Linked DNA regions of Homo sapiens. The protein of the gene in region 5 interacts with the protein of the main gene of each other region in a pairwise test. Each region holds a gene or a part of one and is shown on either strand. Other genes may lie near its edges.

Region 1 (3,500 bases), on a different chromosome or scaffold from region 5:
AGCTAGGCTGAAACGCCAGCAAATTGTTTAATAACTCACATCTAGTCTCTAGATTTTTAACTCGCATGCACCAATAGCTTTTCTTGTGTCTCATCCACATCTCCCCCACTTTTCCATTTTTTTAAAAATACTTTTCTATCATCATAGCTGTTAGTTTCTAAGCAGAAAAATGGGGAAAGTGGATGCTGAGTCTCAGAGGCTCCCCTTTCTTCCCCTGGGAGCCTTGGTTGGTGGATACGTGACCAAGGAGCACCCCTGCACCTTGTGGAATGTCCCAGGAAGGGGAGAGAGACCACTGTAGGGACATCATAGTGTTTCCTTTCCAGCTGGTGACCATATGACTTCCAGCCTGTTGGCCAGTTGTGGAACTGGCCATCTGGGATTTTTTGCGTGCCACTCCTCCCTTGCTGTCCCACCTTTCTAGGATTTTCTCTCTCCCTTTGCCCTGGCAGCCTCTGCCCTGGTCTGGTCCCTACCCTCCTCCAGTGGCCCATCAGCCCTCTCGCTGCTTCTAACCGCTTGCTGCTGCTGTTGGTCCCCATGTGTGCCCAGAGTCACTGGCTTCAAACACAGGTCAGATCGTGCTAGCACCACTCGTCTTAGTCAAGTCAGGCTGCTATAACAAACTGCCACGGACTGGGTGGCTTATACACAGCAGACATGCATTTCTCACAGCTCTGGAGGCTGGGAAGTCTGTGATTGGGGTGCCAGCATGTTCAGGTTCTGGTGAGGGTCCTCCTCCTGGTTGCAGACTGCTGATTTCTCGGTGTCCTCACGTGGTGGAAGGGGCTAGCTAGCTCTCTGGGCCCTCTTTTACAAGGACACTCATTCCATTTTAATTACCTAATTATCTCTCCCAGGCCCCACTTCCTAATACCATCACCTTAGGGGTTAGGATTTCAAAAAAGGAATCAGAGGGGGACCCAGACATTAGGATCATAGCAACCCTCGGTCCTTTCATGGCACTGCATTGCCTGTAGAATAAAGTCCAACCTGTCCTGCCTGGCATATGCAGCCCTCTGATCTGACTCCCATCACCCTCCCAGCTTGTCTCCATCCCCAGGGCCTGACCTTGGCCCCATCTGCTCTGACATTTGCCAGTGGTGTCTCTCTCCTTAGCCTGGCACATGTGTCCCAACTTCTTGTCCTTTGCTTCTCAGATACTCAACTTTTAAAAGCCTAACTCAAAATCTCAGGAGCTCTTGGAGTCGCCCTGCCTTACCCTCTGGGTGGTTGTTAACTCAGCATCTCCCACTAGTCTGGGACCCAGTTTCTCTGCTCAGCCTTAGCCTGCCCCTGGTCACCTAGCACAGTGCCTGTACTTGGTAGTGGCTCAGTGAGTTGGCTGAATGGACATGAAGTGGGTTCAGGCCACCCTGAGAAGTAGGGACAGCATAGTGGGGCAGTATCGAGGGGCCTTGGAAAGGCCAAGGGGGCAGAGTGCTGCAGTCTGCCTTGCTGGGTGTATTGACACTCAGAGCACCTGTGGGTCTGGCTGTATAGGCTGAGATGTCCTATTGGGAATGCCATTCATGTTCCCTCTGCCCAGGTTCCTTCCATGCCGGGGATCTCAGAGGATGCATAAGGAGAAGCCTTGGCTCTTAAAGGGCATGGCTGGCCTCCAAAGCCTACTCAACCCTACTGATTTAAGGTAGCTGTTTGAACACCTGGCTTAATTTGGGCTCTCTGTGGGGTGGGGGTTAAGGGCAGAGAGGGAGTAGATGCTGGGGGCTCTCAAGTTGAAGGAGTGGGGGCCACCGGGCACAGAACGCATTGCAGATGCACTGTCCTCCTGTGTACGTCGGCCAAGCAGGGAGGGACATTGAAGACTCACTGTCAACTCTTGGCATTGCTTCTGTCCAGAAAGATACATCTCTCATTATGTCTCCCTCCAGCAAGTGAAGCTGAGTAGACTACTCAGCATTTCTGAGAGACCTTGGTGGCTCCCAGTGGGATTGGAAGGCCTCAGAGAGCTATGCCTTGTGACCCAGCCCCAGCTACTGCCCACTCCTGGCCAGGGGTTCTCTAGCCATTGCTGGAGCTGTACTAGAGGCAGGAGTCCTCTGTACCATCCTTACTGGGCCTCTTCCAGGGTAAGCCCAGACAGGCGGGCAGTCAGCTCCAGAGGTAGCATTGAGTCCAGCCCCGTGGTTTCTGAAAGACAAACCGAGATATTTTCAGATCCCAACTCTGCCTCTTTCTGTGTGATCTTAGGCAAGTTATTTAATCTCTCTTTTACACTGGTAAAAAGGGGGATAAGAATGCCTGCCTTGTAGGATTGCAAGTTTTAAATGAACTGACAACATAGATAAGGTACCTAGCATAACGCCTAGATTCGCTCCCCTTCCTTCCTGCTTTTTGTTGGCCAGGAGCAAAATCCTGTGCTGGCTGTTTTTCTCCTTCCCTGCTCAGCCTTCCTGACTGCTGGTGAGATGGGGCGTGGCTCCAGGTGCTTAGACTTCAGTGTCTGCAAAGGGAAGGGATATCAGGGTGGGTGTGAGGGGCACAGAAGTGTGGGGGACAGTGAGAGGTGGGCCTTGCCTGCCTACTAGTCCATCCTAACCCAGCCATGAGTGGGACGGAGGTGGTGAGGACCAGACCTCTCACTTGCTATCTCCATTGATGGCCAGGAAGGCAGGGAGGTTCTTCGTGCCATCCCTTCTCTTCCCCCTACCTTCCACCAGACACTTCCCGATTCCATGCTGAGCAGCCCATGGCTTCCAGCAGCCAAAGCTTTACCCCCTCCCCCCACCCACTCTGGACTGGACTGACAGATGCTAGGCCTACTTACGTTTCCTGCTTGTGCCTTCCCACACAGGGGACAGCGGTGTGGGGCCAAGTGCAGGTGATATTGCCCAGGCACCAGCACAGAGACACACAGATGGGCCTGCCGGGGAGCTCCTGTGCTCAGGAAAACAGAGCCCAAAAGGGTGGGCACTGAGCTGCCAGTTAGGACTCAGACACAAGGTCAGATACTTCCTCCTGTGGTGCTGCAGCTGGAAATTTCGGCCATGGCTCCAGAGCAGTGTCAGAAAGGGATTGGTAACAAACAGAAAATGGCAGCCTGTATGTGTGGGGTACTTTGGGGATGAACAGCCAGTTAGAATTAAATGAAAATCTCACATCACTCGCTAGCTTTCAATCCTTTGACAGTTGCCCATCGGGTTTAGGATGGAACTAAATCTCTTGACGTGGTTTGCAAGACCCTGCATGGCCTGGCCCTTGCCTTTCCCTTTAGCCTCCTCTTCTTCCCCAGCTGCACTGCACCATTCCTCTGTCTGATCCTCCCACCGGCCATGTTTCCTCCTGGCCCAGAGTGTTCACAGACACTATTCCATCTTCCGGATTCCGCCATTCACCTGGTGTTCTGGGTAACGTCGGTCATGAGAGCAGGGACTTTGCATGCTCTTCCTTGGTTATATCCCCAGTGCCAAAAAGACAGCCTTGCTTGTAGAAGGCATCAAATAATACTTGTTGAGTGAATGGACCTAAGATTCATG
Region 2 (3,500 bases), on a different chromosome or scaffold from region 5:
ATACTAAACAAGTGGCAGATTATTCATGCCTCCCCTTTTTAGACCATATAGGGTCACTTCCTGATGTTGCCATGGCATTTGTAAACTGTCATGGCCCTGGTGGAAGTGTAGCAGTGAGGACGACCAGAGGTCACTCTCATGGCCGTCTTGGTTTTGGTGCTGGCTTCTTTACTGCAGCCTGTTTTATCAGCAAGGTCTTTATGCCCTGTATCTTGTGCTGACCTCCTATCTCATCCTGTGACCCAGAATGCCTAACCATCTAGGAATGCAGCCCAGTAGGTTTCAGCCTTATTTTACCCAGTTCCTATTCAAGATGGAGTTGCTCTGGTTTAAACGCCTCTGACGTTACCAGAAGTGAGCTTCCTAGTGGCCAAAGTAGGAAGGAGAGAAGCCTGAGCAGTTGTCAGCTCCACTGTGGCCACAAGATGCCAACATGCTAGTTGCTCAGGAGAAGCCCAGGTTTTCCTGGCACAATTAGTATCTGAGACACCCATGTCCACTGTGATTTGTTGCTCATGTGACGGAGCAACACACAAGGAGCTGTGCATCCTTACAGGTGAAGACTGACCACAGCAGAGAAAAACTTCAAAGACAAATTTAACACAGCTACCAGAGACAGAGACTCTTTTTTCTTTTCTTTTCTTTTTTTTTTTTTTTTTTGAGATGGTATCATTCTGTCGCCTAGGCTGGAGTGCAGAGACGTGCAATCACGGCTCACTGCAACCTTGAACTACTGGCCTCAAGCAATCCTCCTGCCTCAGCCTCCCAAGTAGCTGGGACCACAGGCACGCACCACCATGTCTAGCTGATTTTTAAATATTTTTTGCAGAGACAGGATCCTCCTTGTTGCCAGGCTGGTCTTGAACTCCGGGCTTCCAGGCACTTGACCTCCCCAAGTGCTGAGATTATAGGCGTGAGCCACTGCGCTCAGCTGAGACTCCCTTTTCATGCATTTCCTTGCATTCTTCTTTCTTCAAACCTTTGCCTATGTTATTTGACAACCCGCCTCAATTTGCCTTCCATCTCTCCACTCACCTCTTAAAGGCCAGGTGGTAATGCCTCCCTATGGTGGGGCAGCATAGCAGGTGTCTGTCCACTCTCTGACCCTCACTTCTGTTCCCCTAGACTGCCAGGAACTCCTGCCACCGCCACCGGCTCCCATGGCCCACATACCCAGTGGGGGTGCCCCAGCAGCGGGGGCAGCCCCCATGGGCCCCCAGTATTGCGTGTGCAAGGTGGAGCTGTCAGTGAGTGGCCAGAACCTACTGGACCGGGATGTTACCTCCAAGTCCGACCCCTTCTGTGTCCTCTTTACAGAGAACAATGGCAGATGGATCGAGGTGAGGCTCTTCCGTGTGTCTGCGGTGGGTAAGGGGGTGGCTAGGCTGCTGGGGAGGGGGAGTCTCCCAGGACTGGGATCCAGGATGTCTGATGGAAGTAGTTGGAGTGTGGGCTGGTGGCAGGGGATTACTTGGTAAATTGTTACTCTTAAAATGAAATTTTATTTTAAATATATTTAAAATATTACTTTGTGTTTAAATTATTACAATTAAAATCTATAGATTTATATTTATATGATTTATAGTGATTATTTGATATCTTTTTTTTTTTTTTGAGACGGAATCTCTCTGTCCCCCAGGCTGGAGTGCAGTGGTGAGATCTCAGCTCACTGCAACCTCTGCCTCCCAGGCTCAAGCAATTCTCCTGCCTCAGCCTCCCGATTAGCTGGGGCTACAGGTGTGCACCCCACGCCCAGCTAATTTTTGTATTTTTAGTAGAGACATGGGTTTTCGCCATGTTGGCGAGGCTGGTCCTGAACTCCTGACCTCAAGCAATCCACCTGCCTCCACTTCCCAAAGTGCTGGGATTACAGGCATGAACCACCACGCCCCATCTTGTTATAAATTGTTATATATAGTTAACATTTTATAGTTTTATGAAATGTTTGCTTCCGCTTTTAAATAACCTTTCTAAATGAACACATGGTCAGTAAGAAACAGAGAAACAGTGAGCTCAGGCTTTGGGAGCTGGTCCAAGGCCCAGTGATGCTACTCCCTGCTGTGTGGCCTTAAGCAAGTAGCTGTCCCTTTCTGAACCTGTCTCCTCATCTGTGAAATTATTATATATTTTTTTTCTGCTGACTCCCTTGGAAGGCCCCAGATCTGGGGATATTAATGGTGCCCCAGGCAAGGACTTCTGAGCTGGAAGACTTTGGCTTGAAGGTTGGAAAGAGTTGCAGCTTGAGGAAGGATGTTGAGAAACCTAAGCTGTTCAGACCTTCAGGTTTTAAAACTTGCTTTGCTTTTGCAAAAGGAAACTATTGGAGTAAATGTAGAGAATCCAGATAAACCTAAAGGAGAAAATCAAAATTGTTAGGAACCCACCTGTCATAGAGAACCACTGTTAACCGTTTGGTATCCAGCCTTCCAGATGGCTTTATATGCATGTATATTTCCCAAAATATGTGTGTATTTTTTAATGGATATTTAACTAGGCCACGGTGGGAGTTCACCTGAACATACTGTGGTTTACAAAGAGTTCCCATGGATGTTGGCTCCTTCTTGTGATGCCAAGAAAACGGTGTGGGATTGTTGACCCACTTTACAGAGGGGGAAACAGGGGCCCCAGAGTGGGTAGGGACTTTTTTGTGTCACCCAGCTTGTTGATGGTACAACTGTAAGTGGGAGGTGGGACATGGGGCCAGCTGAGGACTCCTGGGGGAGCCACAAGCCTGTGAGAGGCATGTCTGGGGGCACAGTTCCCTTCCACCAGGTCTCTAGAACCCTTGAGTGCCCCGAGGGAGTGGTATCCCCCTGACTCATAGCACAATCCCCCACCCTCCCTGACAACCTCTGCCCCCACCCAGGCCAGCCACCCTGGCTAAAAATAGCCCAGGGCCAAGACCTCCTCCGTCCCTGCTGCTCCAGCCCTTGGAAATGGACTGGGTGGGAGGAAAAGTCAACACAGCCTGGGCCCCAAAATAGACTGTCACCCAGACTCCGCGGTTTGGGGCCTCAGCATCCAGAGGCCAGGAGGCGGGTTTCCTGTCCCAGTGCCACCACTGACCCACAGTACCAGGCCCTGTCCTCAGCCAGGCTTTGGTATCCACAGTAGGTGGGGTGTTGGGCTGCACAGTGTCAGGATTCTATACAAGATACAAATATCTCCCCGCGCTCCCGTGGGGAGTCCCTGACCCCACCTCCCCCGAAGAATCCTCCCTGCTTTCTGTTTCCTCTCTCAGTTTCCATGTAAAACATGGTTTGAAAAAGGGTTTTCCCAAAATAAAAAGTGAAAACCGCAAGTAGTCAAATCCTTTCCCTTTACAGAGGTGGAAACGGAGGCCCAGATGGGGAAAGGGCCTTGTCCTCCATCTCTTACCCAGGCAGGGGCAGGGCCTGAGCTCTTACCCTGGCACCTGGGTAGGGAGCCAGGGCCAAAGAATTAAGAGTGTGGGTAGCAGAGTCAGACCTCGGTTTCAAATCTCGGCCCTGCTCCACAAG
Region 3 (3,241 bases), on a different chromosome or scaffold from region 5:
GCATGTTTTGTTGGATCAGTAGTTATTTAATTAAAGATAGTTACTGACATTCAAAAGTTGGGTTTCACATACAAATTAGGATTCCTGACTTCTTTAAAAATGGGAGGATATGGCAGGGCCACTTGGCAGCAACCCAGTGACATGGGGGCGGGGGTGCAGTGTTTCATCTGTACTTGAGAGCACCAGAGCCCCCACAAGGCCTGGCCACATCAACATGAGTTTGGCAATCTGCTGTACAAGTGAAAGATGTGGGCTGGGGAGTCGGATGGCCTGTGTGGAGTCCTGGCTCTGGCACTGACTAGCGGCAACACCTTGAGCCAATCACTTATCCATGCCAAAGTTGCTTTGTCTGTAAAATCAGAACCCTTCAGAGGATTCTTGGAAGGGCTGAATGAGGTCTCATGATGTGTTTAGCAGGGCATGTGTTCAGCACCTGGTAGCTGTGAACTGATGGAGCCTGGAAGGGAGAGAGCAGGTGCAGGGCAGACCACGCAGGAGGCTTCTCGTCACCAATGAACATTTATTGAGTGTCCACATGTGCACAGCTTTGAACTTGGCGATCACAGAACGCACTGGGGGAGGGAAGCAAGGGATCAAGAGTGTGTGTGTGTGTGTGTGTGTGTGTGTGTGTGTGTGTGTGTGTGTGTGTGGTCCCCCTGGGTTTATAAGAAAGGTAGTCCCTGCTGGAGCCGCCAGTCGCGTCTCTGCAGAGAGGAGTCATAGCAGGGGTGGGAGTTAAAGCCAGGCACCACGGTGGCAGTGGAGTGTAATCACTGGGGAAACATGCGGATTCTGGGGAAGTGTCCCTCCTGTTCCTGGCTCCAGCCAGGCCAGATGGCACCAGGGGGACAGGAATCAGATGCTCAGGTGTCCAAGCAGGGATAAGGACAGGCAAAATAAATAACCCCCCAACCCCCATCGTCACTCTGCTGCAACACGACACAAAGGTTTAAAGATCTGGGCCCAAAGACTCTGGGTCCCTTCAAGCAAGCTCAGGTGGAAGGAGGTTTCCCCACCCCCCACCAGGCCTGTCTGCCCCAGGTTGCCCTAGGATGGAGGCAGTTCAGACCCTGGGTCACTGAAGCTGATAGGAAGAACTGCGATATCAATGGCCTAAGCCTGCTGTCTGCCCAAGGGAGCCAAGGGCAAGAGCCAAAGGGCCAATTTAAAGGACGTGGACCTGGGGGGCCAGAGGAGGCACCACAGCCGAGGGGAGCCCACGCCCTGGCCGGCAGGGCACATGGGCTGAGGCAGTCTGCTCCTGCCAGCCCTGTCTTACCCTGGAGCCTCCCTCCTGCAGGGGAGCCAGACATCGGGCACAATGACACCTAGTGCCCCCCTCCCTGGGGGCTGCTCCAACCTTCCCCGGCCTGGCGGGGACAACCACGTTGATTTCCAAGCCGATCCCTGCCCCCATGGGGGCCTGAGGGGCGGAACGCAGTTCCTTACACTTGAGGGGTGGGCACCATGCCCTTGCCCTCAGAAAAGCCAGAAAGCTGGGGTGTTTTGGGGAGGAAGTCTGGGGAGGGGGGGGCCAGATTGGGGGCTTCAGGGAAGATGCCTCCTCCCTCCTTCCCTCTCTGCCCGCCCCTGGGTCTGTCCCCGGTGGACACCCCTCAGGGCTCTGACAGGCACTGCTCCAAGGCAGCCATGCGGTAGTGGCTGGCCGTCTCCTCGCCCGCCTGCAGCCTCATGGCCTCCCGGCACAGCCGGTTGGCCCGCGCCAGCTCCACCAGGACACCCTGATAGGCGGCCACCATCTCGGGCTTGACAGAGTTGGGGCTGACACTGCCTAGCAGCTGGAGCAGCTCCTGCGGCCAGCGGGAGCGCAGGGCAGCGGGGGCCAGCCAGGGCAGCAGAGGCACACAGCCGGTGAAGGCCTGCATGCCCAGGAACCAGAGCTCCTGCAGGTCGGCCCAGATGCCCTCATACTCAGGGGACAGGGCTAGCACTGCCTGGTCTGAGCCCGGGGTGGCCCGCGCCACGTGGGACTGTGATAGGAAGAGGATGGCAGCTGCGAAGAACCCTCGGGATGCTGGTGTTCCCTGAAGAGCTGCAAGGTAACGGAAGGAGTGGGGCATGAATCGGACAGGCCAGCTGCTGTGTCAGACCCTTCCCTAGTCCTCTGTGTAGACACATGCAGGAGCCAGGGCACAGCCTGGAATCAGACTGCCTGCGTTGAAACCCTGCCTTAGATGCTCACTGTGTGACCTTGGGTAATTAACTTTTCTGGGTCTGTTTCTTTACTTGTAAAATGGGCCAATAGTGCTCATCTTAGAAATTTGTTGTGAGAATTAAATGTGATCATCTTGGTACACTCAACCACCAAGACCTCTACCGGCACTGGAGGTGGGGGTGAGTCACAGGGTCAGATGGGAGAGAGAACCCCTCAGGGTTCTGGACACAGAGCTCAGACACAGGTTAAGGGAGTTGCACCATTTGATCCTTGGGCCAGAAGAGGGCGCCAGAGAGGAACATAAGCAAGTGACCCTGCTTTGCTTACTGGCTGTTCAAGGGGTGACCCTCACACTGCAGGTGCTCTCCAGGAAGCTGTCAACCTAACCTGGTGGTATTTGAGGGTGAGCCAGAACTGGGACCATGAAATTGGGGGCTGCAGAGATGCAGCCTGGGACTGAGAGTGCAGAGTGGGCTCCTGGTGTACAGGGATGTGCACCCCTTCCCATGACGGGGTACCCTGCTGGGAACCCCTCAAAAGGAACACAGAGGCAGTGGAAGGTACGGGCATGTTACGCCCTGTTCCCAGGCATCTGCTCAGCTCCTCCAACCTGACAGATGGGGCACAGGGAACAGGCAGGGACAGAGGGACCCAAGCAGACACCCACAGCCAAAGAGGGAGACACGGAGGGCTGCCAGGGGCTGGAGGGGACGTCCCTCCCCCTGCAAACAGCCAGAGTGAGGCAGAGCTAGGGAGAAGGTGTGCATAGAGGGACACCAAGTGCTGAAGGCTGTCACTGATGGGGGTGAGGTACCGAGCAGAGCAGAGAAAAACATCAATGGAAGGAAGTCAGGTTTCTGACTCAAGGCCTGGGTGGGGGCGGCTCCACCTTGAAAACACTGGATTCAGATTCCTCTGGCTGCCAGGGATTCCAGGTGCCTATGCCTGTGCCTGTGAGCAGGTCTGTACTTAACACCCACCAGACTTTGCCTTAAAAGTCTTCAGAAGAAAGAGAATGTTAGCATTTTGGGAAGAACGGTGGGGGTAGGGGATGGAGATACACTG
Region 4 (3,500 bases), on a different chromosome or scaffold from region 5:
CTCCTCCTACTCCCTGGTAGCTGCCCCACATTCTGTCTCAGCTTCACACCTCTGACTGCAAGCGCTCCAACACTGAGACTTCAGGCTGGGGTAATTGCTCTGGGTGAAGGCATCCAGGCCTTTGACTTCAAATTCATTAATTTTCTGAAATTTCCTAACAGACATATCTCTGGCCTGAGATGTTCCTTTATCTCTGGGATCTCACGTGTCCAGCTGCCCACTTAACATCACTAAGGATATCTAATCAGCATCTCAGATTTCACATGTTCAAAAACAAACACTTGAACTCCCCTCACATCTACACCTGCTCCTCCACAGTGTTCCCTGTGTCAATAAATGCACATTTCACTCTTCTAGGTTTACAGACCAAACTTAGGGGTTACCCTTGATTCCTTTGTCTCTTCATTGCACATCATTGTTGGAAACTCCATCAGTTCTGGCAGGAAAATATGAAATACAGCCTATGCAGAATTACAAAAACTCCATCTCTAATATCTCCTTCAAACCACCCTGTCTCTTGCCTGGAATACTGTATGGTATCTGGCCTCCCCACTTCTACCTTTTCCCTACTCCAGTATGTTCTCCACAGCACAGCCGAGTGGATGCTTTGAACACTCAACTTATGTTACAATATTTCTAGGATCCCAACATTCAAATGACTTCCCATCAAACTCAGAATAAAGTGGTTGTAGTTTATGATGTTGTCATGATCTAAACATAAACCATCCCTGAACTCTTCATCAGGACCCATGATTTCCCGACCTGAGGCTCCTACAGTTGGGGTATGAAGAGCCCTTTTAAAAGTAAAATAATATTAGGTTGGTGACCATGTAATTGTGATTTTTCCCATTGAAAGTAATGGCAAAAAATGCAATTACTTTTGCACCACCCTAATATCTTGAAGCTTAAGCTGGATTTACTTCCTCTTAAAGTAGCTTCTGCCTGTGCCTCCCTGCCTCGCTCATTCCCAGCAGCTGCCGGCCATCTGGCCATTCCTTGAAGGGACATTCTTCTGACTTAAGACTTTAGCACATGTGATTTCCTTTATACTTCTCTTCTGCCAAGATTCCTCGTGGTTAAGTATCTTACATCCTTCACCCTAACAGAAGGGACATTCCCTGGTTATTTCAAGAGTGTGTAAATATTCTATTCCCTTTTAGCCTGAATGTTCTTTTTTTCTTCCAGTACTTATCATGACTTAATATATATTTATATACTATGTATGGATTCTACTGCTTTACCAGCTAGACTATATGCTTAATGTAAAGAAAGGGGTTTTACTTTTTATTCACATCTCTATTTCCATTGCTAGAACAGTGTCTGAGACATGGTAGACATTTATTACTAAATGGACAAATCTAAAACAGAGTGACTTAGAACTATTCCTTTTCTTCCAAAAGGCAAGCATTACAAGTTCCACTAAATAAGTCAGTCTTCTCTAAAGAAGGTGGCTTTTAGATATTAAACGCTTATAGGCTTTTAAAATTAATAAAGAAACAGTTTTAAGTGAGGTTAACCCCAATCACACCACTTTAATTGCTATCAGCAACTTCATTCTTCCAAGTACTTAAATAATTCACAAATACACCTATGATGATTATCTGTATATACAAAAGATGAAGATTTACATTTATTTGGCCAGAAATACTTTTGAAACAGCGTGGAAAGTGGATAGGATATTTGGGAGAACAAAGCCATGTATCCCTTTCAGAGATAAGAGGACCAAGGGGTTTCAAAAGAATCAGCAGATGGGAGGTGGAGTTTGTCTTCTGCACTATTTCTACTTCTGATATCGTTTTGGATAAAGATCTATGCTTCTCGAATATGTCATTTATATTAATTCAGATAAACATCCTGCTCAATAATATGGAAGAAACTTATAGCCACAGAGGAAACAATGACGGCCAACCATAGACAATGAATGGACCATGTGAGGTCCAGGACCAGAGCTTTGCATTCAGTACCTATGCTTAGGCCCCAGCCTTCTGTGAGAAGCCTGTATCTGAGATAGCCCTCCTAGTTCTAATCCATGAATACTGGAATTTCTCCCATTAATCTACATTATCAGGTCAAATTTATTTAGTCCTGATACCAAAAACATAAAATATAAAAACATATCAAAAACATAAAAGCCAGCAAGTAAATTCATATAGCATTAACACCTTTAGAGGGCACTTGTAGCACGACATAATTGCAACATCCATGTTTTTAATCCATGCAATCATAAATTCTATAACTTAAGTTTCATTATTACAAAAAGAATGAAGAAGCCTGGGCAGTATCAAAAATAGGATGGCAGGGACTCTACGTAGTTGCTTTGACCCAACTCATTCCTACCATTGACAATACCTGTAAAGTGATTTCCAAACAAAGATAGAACAAAGCTCACCTGAACCCTCAGACAATCCCTGAGATTATTCTAGCTCCAAATTAGGAACAGGTTATAACCAGAACCTTCTAGAATTATATGAAACACCAATGGATTATGGCACTTCCACATCTTTCTCTTTTTTCCTGTGCTACCAAATGTTATAATCCCACTGAGCACCTTATAATTTTCATGTTTTATTGTGAAATACATTTTCTTCTCATCCAGAGAAGAAACGCTTGTTCAAAACCCTTCATGTCAAAAGAAGATAGAAAATTCATGAATATAGGCTGACTAATAAGACTATTTGATCTTTTGCAGAGGTCATAAATGTAATCTTTCACCTAATGCCTTCACAATCCTAAATTCACTAAGGGAGGAAAGGAAAGATTGTATGAAAGACTCTCAAAACTATTTCCAAATGAAAATGAGTCTAAAGTTGCTACAGGTTTTTCTTCATGCAACTATTGCCTCTTTACCTGTGTTATATTTCCAAACGTTTACTGCAGCTTAGAAACATATGCTCCCGAGTCAGTGACTAAAAATCTCACTTTTATTTTTGGAAACTTTAATTCTACAAATTTGAAACAGACACTATGATAAGATATATTTATAAATTCTTCAGTGAGCATATGTTTTTTTTCTCAATATTAAGGACACCTTTTTCTTTAGCTACTAAAAAAATCCTTCTATCAAAATTTTAACATCAAATATTTTAATATATTTATGACACACAACAGCAATTCTTTTAGGAAATATCATTAAATATAAATCAACTTGGATAATATTTAAGTATATAATAATGTTAACAGTCCTTTGCAAAGCTATGACTACAATTAAATGGCCTTGAGCACAACCTCCAATACAATATCTAGTTTTCCATTTTACAATCAAGGTCTCAAGCTCACAATCTCCATTGAGCATCTACAATTAGTCAGGGCACTGAGGATGGAGCACTAGTTATACAAAATGTCTTCTATAGAATATATTCTTAGAATGCAACCTAAACCTGTACAAAAATAAAATCTCAAGGTCAGTGACCAAATCTTTGCATTTCAACTATCCTCATCTGTTTTCGTGTACGGCAAAAAGATACTCCTTCAGTAAAGCCTACTTAATGATAGTATGATTC
Region 5 (2,150 bases):
TGCAGATATAATTAATTAAAATGAAGTTATGCTGGATTAGAGTGGACCCTAAATGCATTGATTGGTGACTTTATAAGAAAGCTGCGTGAAGACATATTGGTATACACAGAGAACACCATGTGAAGTTGGAGGCAGACGTTGGAGTGATGTGCTTACAAGCCAAGGAATGACTGCCAGCCACCACCAGAAGCCAGGAGAGAGGCATGGAATAAATTCTTCCTTAGAGCCTCCAGAAAGATCCAACGCTGCCAACACCTTGGTTTTGGACTTCTGGCCTTCTGAACTGTGAAAGAATAAGTTTCTGTTGCTTTAAGCCACTTACTTTGTGGTACTTTGTTACGGCAGCCCCAGGAAACTAATAACAGACACTGTCAACTATTACTGAATTTAGAATTCTTAGAACCATCCTTACCTGTATTAGTTTCCTAGTGATGCCCTCACAAAGTACCACAGACTGAGTTGCTTAAAACAATAGAAATTTATTCTTCCACAGTTCTGGAGGCTAGCAGTTCAAAATCTAGGTGTCAGCAGGGCCATACTTTCTCTGAAACCTGTGTGGGAATCCTTCCCTGCCTCTTCCTAGACTTTGATGGTTTTCTGGCAATCTTTGGCGTTCCTTGGTTTGCAGCTGCAAACCTCTAATCTCTGCCTCTATGGTCACCTGGTGTTCCCCCTGTGTGTCTCTGTCTTTACCTGGCTGTCTTTTTATAGGGAGGCCAGTCATATTGGATTAGGGGCCCACCCTACTCCGGTATGATCTCATTTTGCTCATCTTAATTTACCTAATTACATCTGCAAAAACCCTATTTCCAAACAAGGTCACATTCTGAGGTACTAGGGATTAGGACTTCACATAACTCTTTTGCATGAGGACACAACTCAACCCATAGCACTACACCTTTCTTTTGTCACCATTTCAAGTTGATCCCCTTCTAGCTATTTCATGTTCTCCTGCAGCAGCATCTCTCAGAGTAGCTCCTGTCCTCCATGCCCGCTTCAGCCACCCTGGTTATGGCACAGTCATTTTTCTGCGGTATTATAGTACTCACCTCCAGATTGATTTTCTTACTTCATGTCATTCTCTGTACATCCAGCAAGTTAGCTAATCAGTTTCTAATCAGATTTCTGTCATTTCCCTGGCCAAGACCTACCAGTGACTTCCCCTAACCACAGCCTCAAGTATAAACTAGCACAGAAGGCCAGAAGTTTGGCCCCAGCTTCTCCTTCTAACCATCTCTCTTGCCACTTTGCACCATGTGCCGCAAACCACACTGGGCTACTCACCCTTTCTTGAAAATAGATTTTAGATCTCCAGGCCTTTGCTTACGCTGGTCCCTATGCCTGGAATACCCTTCACAACCCTAAACCCTCTGCTGAACTGTTTTTCATCCCATAAGGTGCAACTGAATCACCACTTATTCAGCTTGCTTCCAAAATTCCATCACATCAAATTATTGAGCCTTTACCTATGTTTCTGTGACACCTTGTGATTCTGGATACTAATGTAACACTAGTAAAGATATAGAACCTCTTATATACAACAATTAACCTTGACAGTCATATTTTAACCTTGAAAGTAGAAATATAAGCAACCATATGTATGAACTTTGCCTCCTGTTGATATTAATTAACCATTGAGGCATATGCAAAAAGTTTGTGTGTGTGTATATACACGTATTTATGTATTATATAAAATGTGCATCTGTGTGTGTATATGTGTACACACACACACACAAATAAAGTGGCTTATCTGCAAGATCATACTGTGAGTGATCCAGTGTTCTTTTCATTGTTTACTGAAGAAACAGTAACCAATCAGCCAGTATAGATACCAGTTTGTATTTTAAAAATTGGGTTCTTTAGGCAGCAGTTCACGTCTGTAATTCCAGCACTTTGGGAGGCTGAGGTGGACATATAACTTGAAGCCGGGAGTTTGAGACCAGACCAGTCCGGCCTATATGGCGAAACCCGTCTCCTAGAAATACAAAAATTAGCCGGGCATGGTGGCATGTGCCTGTAATCCCAGCTACTCGGGAGGCTGAGGCATGAGAATCACTTGAACCCGGGAGTTGGAGGTTGCAGTGAGCAGAGATTGTGCCAGTGTACTCCAGCCTGGGCAACAAAGTGATACCCTGTCTTTAAAAAAAATA
Region 6 (3,500 bases), on a different chromosome or scaffold from region 5:
ACCCAGATCCAACACAACCGCCACCTGGGCCTCGGCAGCCTGCCCTCACCCGCCGAGGCCGAGCTCTACCAATACTACCTGGCCCAGAACATGAACCTGCCCAACCTGAAGATGGACAGTGCTGCCTCGGACGCCCAGTTCATGATGAGCGGATTCCAGCTGGATCCCGCCGGGCCCATGGCCGCCATGACGCCTGCTCTAGGTGAGGATGACTACGTGTTTGTCTGTTTTCATGATAGGAGTTTAACCAGGGAGAATGGTGAATAGGGTGAGATAGTCCTGTGGATTCAGTTGACTCTGGTCTTCTCGAGTGGTTTTTGTGTAAACTGGAGTGTCTTACAATCAAGTATTCTCAAGAATCCCTTGAACTGTGTGTGTACATATGGAAGAGTTTATGCATTCAAAAGAGATATGCTTGTACTCTGGCTACGTGGGGCCAGGATTAAAATGTGAGTGTTTCCTCTAGTTTTCTGTTCCCATTCTCTCTTTCTCTGTCTCTTCTTTCAATTTGAAAAATCACTATAATCACCTAAAACTTTGGGGTTTCATCGAATATTTACTGAAACTTACAGGAAACTGTAGCTGAGGCAATCATTTCAATAAGAGGACTAGGGACAGTTACCTCAATGATTTAAGTAGAGACAATCATCTTAATAATAGGAATTCGGAACCACAGTGTACGTTATTCAGATAACTAAAGGCTGATTCTGTGCCGAGCTAGGGAACCATCCAGATAGACTTCTCAAAGTTCTCTGTATATTTATGAGGACCTCAATGAAAGAGATGTTTTTTTTTTTGCTTATTTTTGATGAGTACTTGGTGATTAGAATAGTTGGAAATTAATTGGGAATTAAATTCCCCAGTGGCACTGTTGTGAGGGGTGTGAGAGATGAAAAATGAGTAAGTTGTAAAAATTGTCCATCAAGGAAAGTTAACTTTTAATAGCAGTTAGATCCTGGTTAGCGGAGCCTTCGCTGCCAGGAAGAATGACCTCTGCTTTAGAGAAGCTGATTTGGCTCTGTTCAGGCTCCCAGTCTTACCAATTGGCTTACAATATCTAGAATAGGACCAAGAGTGTAGGATTTGGGTGCTAAAAACTTTGAGTTTTTACGTAGAACGAACCACAGCCACTTTGAGGATAGCTGCTGCTGCCAAAACAATCTACAGATGGGTTTCATGAGAACCTTCTGATAGTTGGGCCACTCGTGCCTCCACCCGGTATGCTTCAAACAGGATCCTGCCTGCGTCCCATCCCGTGACGCTGCTAATGGACTTCGTGGGACCAGTGACAATGGCCTGAATTAAGCAATATGCCATTATTGACATGGGAATAGGTTGTTCTTGGCAACAGAGTGTCAGTGAGGACTTTTTTTCCAGGATGGCTTAGATGACTGCAGGGCCAGGCCTCAGCAGTTGGCAAGTGTTTATTTGTGTGGTGTTTGAGTGCTAATTGTTGCCGATGAGTTATATTTCAAAGCATTCCATTGGTTTTTCTTGCTATGTATTCAGTTTTTAATCCTTAGTACTTTAATCTCATTTTCCATTTTGAAATATTTGCCTGTTGATCCTTTATTACCAAATGATTTGAGGGTATTTGAAACCAACTGGCTAATTGTGGATGCACAAGCACTGGTCGTCTTATTTGTCACCAGGGTGAACCATGCACACCAGGAGATGGGAGTGAGTACTCTAAGGTTTTCTTTAAGCCAGTAGGAATTAGAAGGAGTCATAGAATCTCGGGAGGTAGATCTTGGAGCAAATCAAACATAACGGAGGTGGAATGAAGACAGAACGTGGGAACGTGGGTAGGTTCATGTTGGGTCAAAGTGAGGGTTTTTTTTTTTTTTTTTTTGAGACAGAGTCTCGCTCTGTCACCCAGGCTGGAGTGAGTGGTGCCGTCTCGGCTCACTGCAACATCCACCTCCTGTGTTCAAGCGATTCTCCTGCCAGAGCCTCCCAAGTAGCTGGGATTACAGGCACCCGCCACCATGCCTGGCTAATTTTGTGTTTTTAGTAGAGATGGGGCTTCACCATCTTGGCCAGGCTGGTCTCAAACCCTTGACCTCAGGTGATCTGCCCGCCTTGGCCTCCCAAAGTGCTGGGATTACAGGCATGAGCCACTGTGCCCAGCCTAAAGTGAGGCTTTTTAATTACCTTAAGAACAGGTAACTAAGGCTTGTATTGAGAAGTAGAGAAATATTTCGCTTTCACACCAAGTGTCTGTGAGTCTTTGGGGCATCATGCACTGTCCTGGGCATTGCGGCAGATTCAGAAGGAGCAGAAGAATGAAGCCCTGTGTTGTAGACACACATGGAAGGGCCACACCATATTTCTTAGACTGGAGCTCTTCCTCCCAAAGGATTTATCCAGCTCAGTCACAAAGGGCTCTTGAATTTCCAGTGTCACTACTTGTCGGCCACGGGGAGTCCCTGGAAACCTGTGCCTTCCTTGGGCCGCGAAAACTGCTGAGAAGGTGTGAGAGCCACAAATCCTTTATGCCAGAAGCTCGAGTGGGTGTGGGGGCCATAGGAAGTGTCCAAAAGACTTGGAATTTGAGTTGTATGACCTCAGTAGGAGAAACCAACTTATGCAAATAAAAACAGCCATAACTTTCAGTTCTAGCTGTGGCTGTACTGGTTTTTTTTCCCCATGGTCCATTTATAAGATGGCTGTAGGTGTTATTAGATGTGACTGAGTTCTGCAGGGAGAAAAATGTTTTTGTGAAATACACTCCTCTTTACAAGGTGATTGTTTTCATACTTCCCTTGGCAGAGCCCTCTTTAGTATCATCAAACAGACACTGATTGTGGGGTTGCTTCTTTTCAGAAGCCTTTGAGGAAAGGCTTGGGGCTCCTTCGCCTAGTACAGTCGGATCTGCTGCTCTTTGTAGACAGCACATTAGATTTGAGGCCTTGTGAACATCCTCCCAAACCTTCCTTTCGACTCTGAAGTTTAGCATAGCACCAAGAAAGGGGTTGCTTGTCGGGGTGGCTGTGTGTTTCCCAAGTAGCCAGCCAGCCCCTGGACACCTGCACAAGGTTTAGCAGCTCCCTTCGTCTCCCTTTCATTCCAGAGTGTGCCTTTGAATCCATGCACCTTCCTGAGGATGTGCTGATGGGTGGGCTCACGTGTCAAGGTGTCAGTTCCAGTGTTAGAGTTAGGTGCATACCCAGAGATGGGGACCTGCTCCAAGACCACGTATCCAGTGTGGCTCAAGACTAAGGACCTGCCAAGTTCTTTTTTTCATTTCTTTTTTTTGAGATGGAGTTTCACTCTTGTCGCCCAGGCTGGAGTGCAATAGCGCAGTCTCGGCTCACTGCAGCCCCTGCCTCCCGGGTTCAAGCAATTCTTCTGCCTCTGCCTTCCGAGTAGCTGGGATTACAGGCATGCGCCACCATGCCTAGCTAATTTTTGTGTGTTCAGTAGAGACAGGATTTCACCACATTGGCCAGGCTGGTCTTGAACTCCTGACCTCAGGTGATCTGCCCACCTTGGCCTCC
Region 7 (3,500 bases), on a different chromosome or scaffold from region 5:
GTAAATATACATTGAGGTGAACCATGAACTATTTTGATAGCATAGGGCTCACTAAGATTCAGAGATAAATATTTAATATGTCTTTTAAGATCTTTTTATAGTCTTTGTGTTGAAAGATCAGCCTTTATCCTGAGTCTTACTACTCCCATGCTTTCCTTTCAAAGTTTTGAATCATTTGTTTGCGGGTGATTTGACCCCATGAGGCACACCTAATTTTGCAAGACTTTTGAACTTACAGTGTTGCTTACCTTGTTCCCCTCCTGCTCATTAAAAAAATGTCTGCTACAAACTTTCTACATATTCTTTATTAGGTAAATTTATACAAAATTATCCTTAACCAAATATTTTATATTTTCTACTACTTTTAATATTTCTCTTACAGATTTTATGTGATTTATTATTACCTGAAAACTTAAAAGAAGGCCTGAAGGAATCTTCCTGGAGTTCATTACCATGTACTAAAAACAGACCTTTTGATTTTCATTCAGTGATGGAAGAGTCTCAGTCTCTCAATGAACCTAGCCCAAAGCAGGTACGGGGTGAGACAAGGTTATCATGAGTTTAGCGTATCCATTTCTTTACGAGTTAAGAGCTTCACTTTCCTAGTTTCAAGTACTAGCACCTACTTAAGTACTTTTAACCTGGTTAGTTATCATAGTAGAATTTTTTCCATAGCCTTTACTTTACACTAAAATCTTTTATGTAAAATATTTGCTAATGAATCACAATTTTAGGTCCCGTGAAAGAAAACTTTTAGTTCTTTAAAAATATGTATAGAACATTGCATTTATGTTTCCTCAGGGTAGTAACAGCTGTGTTATAGCATAACTACTTTTAAACCTCATTATAACATAAGTCACCTTGATTTCTAGGGCTGTGTAAGTACAGTCATCCCTTGTATCTGTGGGAGATTGGTTCCAGGACCTCTCACAGATAGCAAATCCAAGGATGCTCAAGTCCCTGATATATTAATAAAATGGCACAGTATTTGCATATAACTTATGCACATCCTCCTGTATACTTAAATCATCTCTAGGTTACTTATAATACCTAATACAATGTAAATACTATGTAAATAGTTGTTATACTGTATTGTCTAGGGAATAATGACAAGAAAAAAGTCGATATATGTTCAGGCTTTTTTTTAGAATATTTTCTATCCCCAGTTGGATGAACCCACGGATGCAGAGCCTGTGGATACGGAGGGCCAACTGTGCTGGCAAAAATCATTTACTTGTCACAGTGTTGGAATCAAGTTAGTGCTATTAAATGAACATTAAAATGAGCATTATAAGGCATTGAAATTTCATTTCAGTTTGATTCTTGGTGAGAGGAATAAAGGATAGTAAAGAAATACAGTTACCTTTGTTTATTGTATTTTTGTAGAGTGAAGAAATACCAGAGGTCACTTCAGAGCCTGTCAAAGGAAGCTTAAACCGTGCTCAGTCAGCACAGTCTATAAATTCAACAGAAATGCCTGCCAGAGAGGACTGTTTAAAAAGAGTGTCCTCAGAACCTGTTCTGTCAGTTCAAGAAAAAGGTGTTCTGCTGAAAAGAAAGTTGTCTCTTTTAGAACAGGATGTGATTGTAAATGAAGATGGAAGAAATAAGCTGAAAAAACAAGGAGGTAAAAATTTTGCTCTACACTTATATAAAATAAATTTATTTAGTCAGAATAGTCTTTAAAGTTTTTCCTAAGGAAGAAAACCCCATGTCTTTGTTTTAATAGAAACTCCCAATGAAGTCTGTATGTTTTCCTTAGCTTATGGTGATATTCCAGAAGAATTAATCGATGTCTCAGATTTCGAGTGTTCTCTCTGCATGAGGTAAGCATATAAAACTTTATAGAAGATGAATATTTTATGTTAGTATACATAAAATACCGTGTAGATAAAGGTAATAATAGACAATGTAAAGTAACACAATGCTGGAATAAAAATCAAAAGACATGAATTTTAGTCCTGGGTTTACCTTTCATGCCTTGGGCAAATAACTGAATCTCTGAACCTCAGGTTTCCTAATTTAGAAAGTGGGATCAAGCTTTGCATGGCCTACATCTCATTGTTGTGAGAATCACATGGCTTCAGTATAAAAGGAATCTGGGAAATTGTAAAGTACTAAGAAAGTTATAGATGATATTATTTTTGAAACTTACCTATCTCCATGGTTTTAAATTTGGGTATGAATTCTAATTAGTATTTTATGTATATGATCCTATCTTATTAATGTATATTAACCATAAAGTCTTTTTAAAGTAACATAAGGATAAGGATTTCCATTATTCAGAATGCTATAATTCTAAAAGACTAAATGTTTTGAAATAACATTTCTCATTTACATGAATTGTGTAGGATCAAAAGATTCATACGGGGTCAGGAGGCCTAGTGCTGGTCACACTAGGCTGGTAGCAGTTACATTCCTGAGCAAGTCTTAATTCTGAGCCTTGGTTTCTTCATCTGTGAAGTGAGGGGATTATACTAAACAGTCCCTAAAGTACCTCTAAATCTATTTCTAGCAAATTCAAAACTATCATGTTTCAGAAAATAAGTAAAACTAGTTGTTCTGTAATGTTTGAATAATACATTTAGTATTAAGTCTAACATTAGGATTCAACTGCATTATTTATTAGGTCATTCTTTTTATGAGTTTTATATCATAAGGGTCTTATAAACCTATTAAGGAATCATTTTTAAGTTGATATTAAAATGGGAATCTAAAGGCTATACAAAAGCTAACTAATGATTTTTAATGATGTATTTTACATTATTTATTTTGCAGAAAGTCTTTGAAATCTGGTATGTATTTTACATTCAGTGCACATATCAGCTTGTACTAGCCACATTTCAAGTGATTAGTAGCCATAGTGTCCAGGGGCTGTTGCGTTAGTCAGGACAGCTCTAGGCCCTTGGCTCTAGGCCTTTGGCAGGAGGCCTTTGTTGATGGAGAATTTTAAAACATTCTGGAGGGTATGGTTACACTTATCACTGCCCTTTCTCTCCTCTCCTGCCTGCTGGGCCCTCCTTCTTCCTCCTTTAAATAGAGATTAGTGTTATGGTTCTAAAGTAGTACAAGCTTTTCAGTGGATAGTTTAATGTGAAAACTAACATGTATCTTGGTTGATTTCAGGTTGTTTTTTGAGCCAGTAACAACCCCTTGCGGACATTCGTTCTGTAAGAATTGTCTTGAGCGTTGTTTAGATCATGCACCATATTGTCCTCTTTGCAAAGAAAGCTTAAAAGAGGTAAATATTTGTATATGTGTCTGTTTGTTGGTCTTAAGTTTGGCAGCATGGTTTAATTTCTGTTCAGCCATAGAAATAGTGATGATCACGTTCAGAATTACATTCTATATTCTGAGTGACTAACAAGGATAATGTTTTATTACCCATATGCTAATGTTGGAGAAAAGTGAGGTTGAAGAGGATGGGGAGAAAGAAGACAGATGCTGAAGACCAACCCCCTTGTACTTAATTTTTTTTTTTTAAACAAAAGTGGGTATGG

What was found.
Region 1: the proteins of EFHC2 (region 5) and ZBTB16 interact in binary tests that used the Homo sapiens proteins (3 or more experiments, as listed by UniProt).
Region 2: the proteins of EFHC2 (region 5) and CPNE2 interact in binary tests that used the Homo sapiens proteins (3 or more experiments, as listed by UniProt).
Region 3: the proteins of EFHC2 (region 5) and NCDN interact in binary tests that used the Homo sapiens proteins (3 or more experiments, as listed by UniProt).
Region 4: the proteins of EFHC2 (region 5) and CCDC102B interact in binary tests that used the Homo sapiens proteins (3 or more experiments, as listed by UniProt).
Region 6: the proteins of EFHC2 (region 5) and ZFHX3 interact in binary tests that used the Homo sapiens proteins (3 or more experiments, as listed by UniProt).
Region 7: the proteins of EFHC2 (region 5) and LONRF1 interact in binary tests that used the Homo sapiens proteins (3 or more experiments, as listed by UniProt).

The regions. Positions count from the first base shown.
Region 1 is NC_000011.10:114,237,711-114,241,210, forward strand, and holds part of ZBTB16 (zinc finger and BTB domain-containing protein 16), read left to right. Parts: intron 1-3,500. UniProt on the Homo sapiens protein: Acts as a transcriptional repressor. Transcriptional repression may be mediated through recruitment of histone deacetylases to target promoters. May play a role in myeloid maturation and in the development and/or maintenance of other differentiated tissues.
Region 2 is NC_000016.10:57,109,583-57,113,082, forward strand, and holds part of CPNE2 (copine-2), read left to right. Parts: intron 1-1,125; 5' UTR 1,126-1,160; coding exon 1,161-1,340; intron 1,341-3,500.
Region 3 is NC_000001.11:35,564,039-35,567,279, reverse strand, and holds the end of NCDN (neurochondrin), read right to left. Parts: intron 2,054-3,241; coding exon 1,617-2,053; 3' UTR 501-1,616; downstream 1-500. UniProt on the Homo sapiens protein: Probably involved in signal transduction in the nervous system, via increasing cell surface localization of GRM5/mGluR5 and positively regulating its signaling. Required for the spatial learning process.
Region 4 is NC_000018.10:68,801,080-68,804,579, reverse strand, and holds part of CCDC102B (coiled-coil domain-containing protein 102B), read right to left. Parts: intron 1-3,500. UniProt on the Homo sapiens protein: During interphase, forms fibers at the proximal ends of centrioles to maintain centrosome cohesion. During mitosis, dissociates from the centrosome following phosphorylation to allow centrosome separation. Contributes to CROCC/rootletin filament formation.
Region 5 is NC_000023.11:44,149,523-44,151,672, reverse strand, and holds part of EFHC2 (EF-hand domain-containing family member C2), read left to right. Parts: intron 1-2,150. UniProt on the Homo sapiens protein: Microtubule inner protein (MIP) part of the dynein-decorated doublet microtubules (DMTs) in cilia axoneme, which is required for motile cilia beating.
Region 6 is NC_000016.10:72,954,129-72,957,628, reverse strand, and holds part of ZFHX3 (zinc finger homeobox protein 3), read left to right. Parts: coding exon 1-202; intron 203-226; exon of another isoform or gene 227-382; coding exon of another isoform or gene 383-449; intron 450-3,500.
Region 7 is NC_000008.11:12,735,027-12,738,526, reverse strand, and holds part of LONRF1 (LON peptidase N-terminal domain and RING finger protein 1), read left to right. Parts: intron 1-382; coding exon 383-532; intron 533-1,166; coding exon of another isoform or gene 1,167-1,255; intron 1,256-1,386; coding exon 1,387-1,627; intron 1,628-1,729; coding exon 1,730-1,826; intron 1,827-3,126; coding exon 3,127-3,241; intron 3,242-3,500.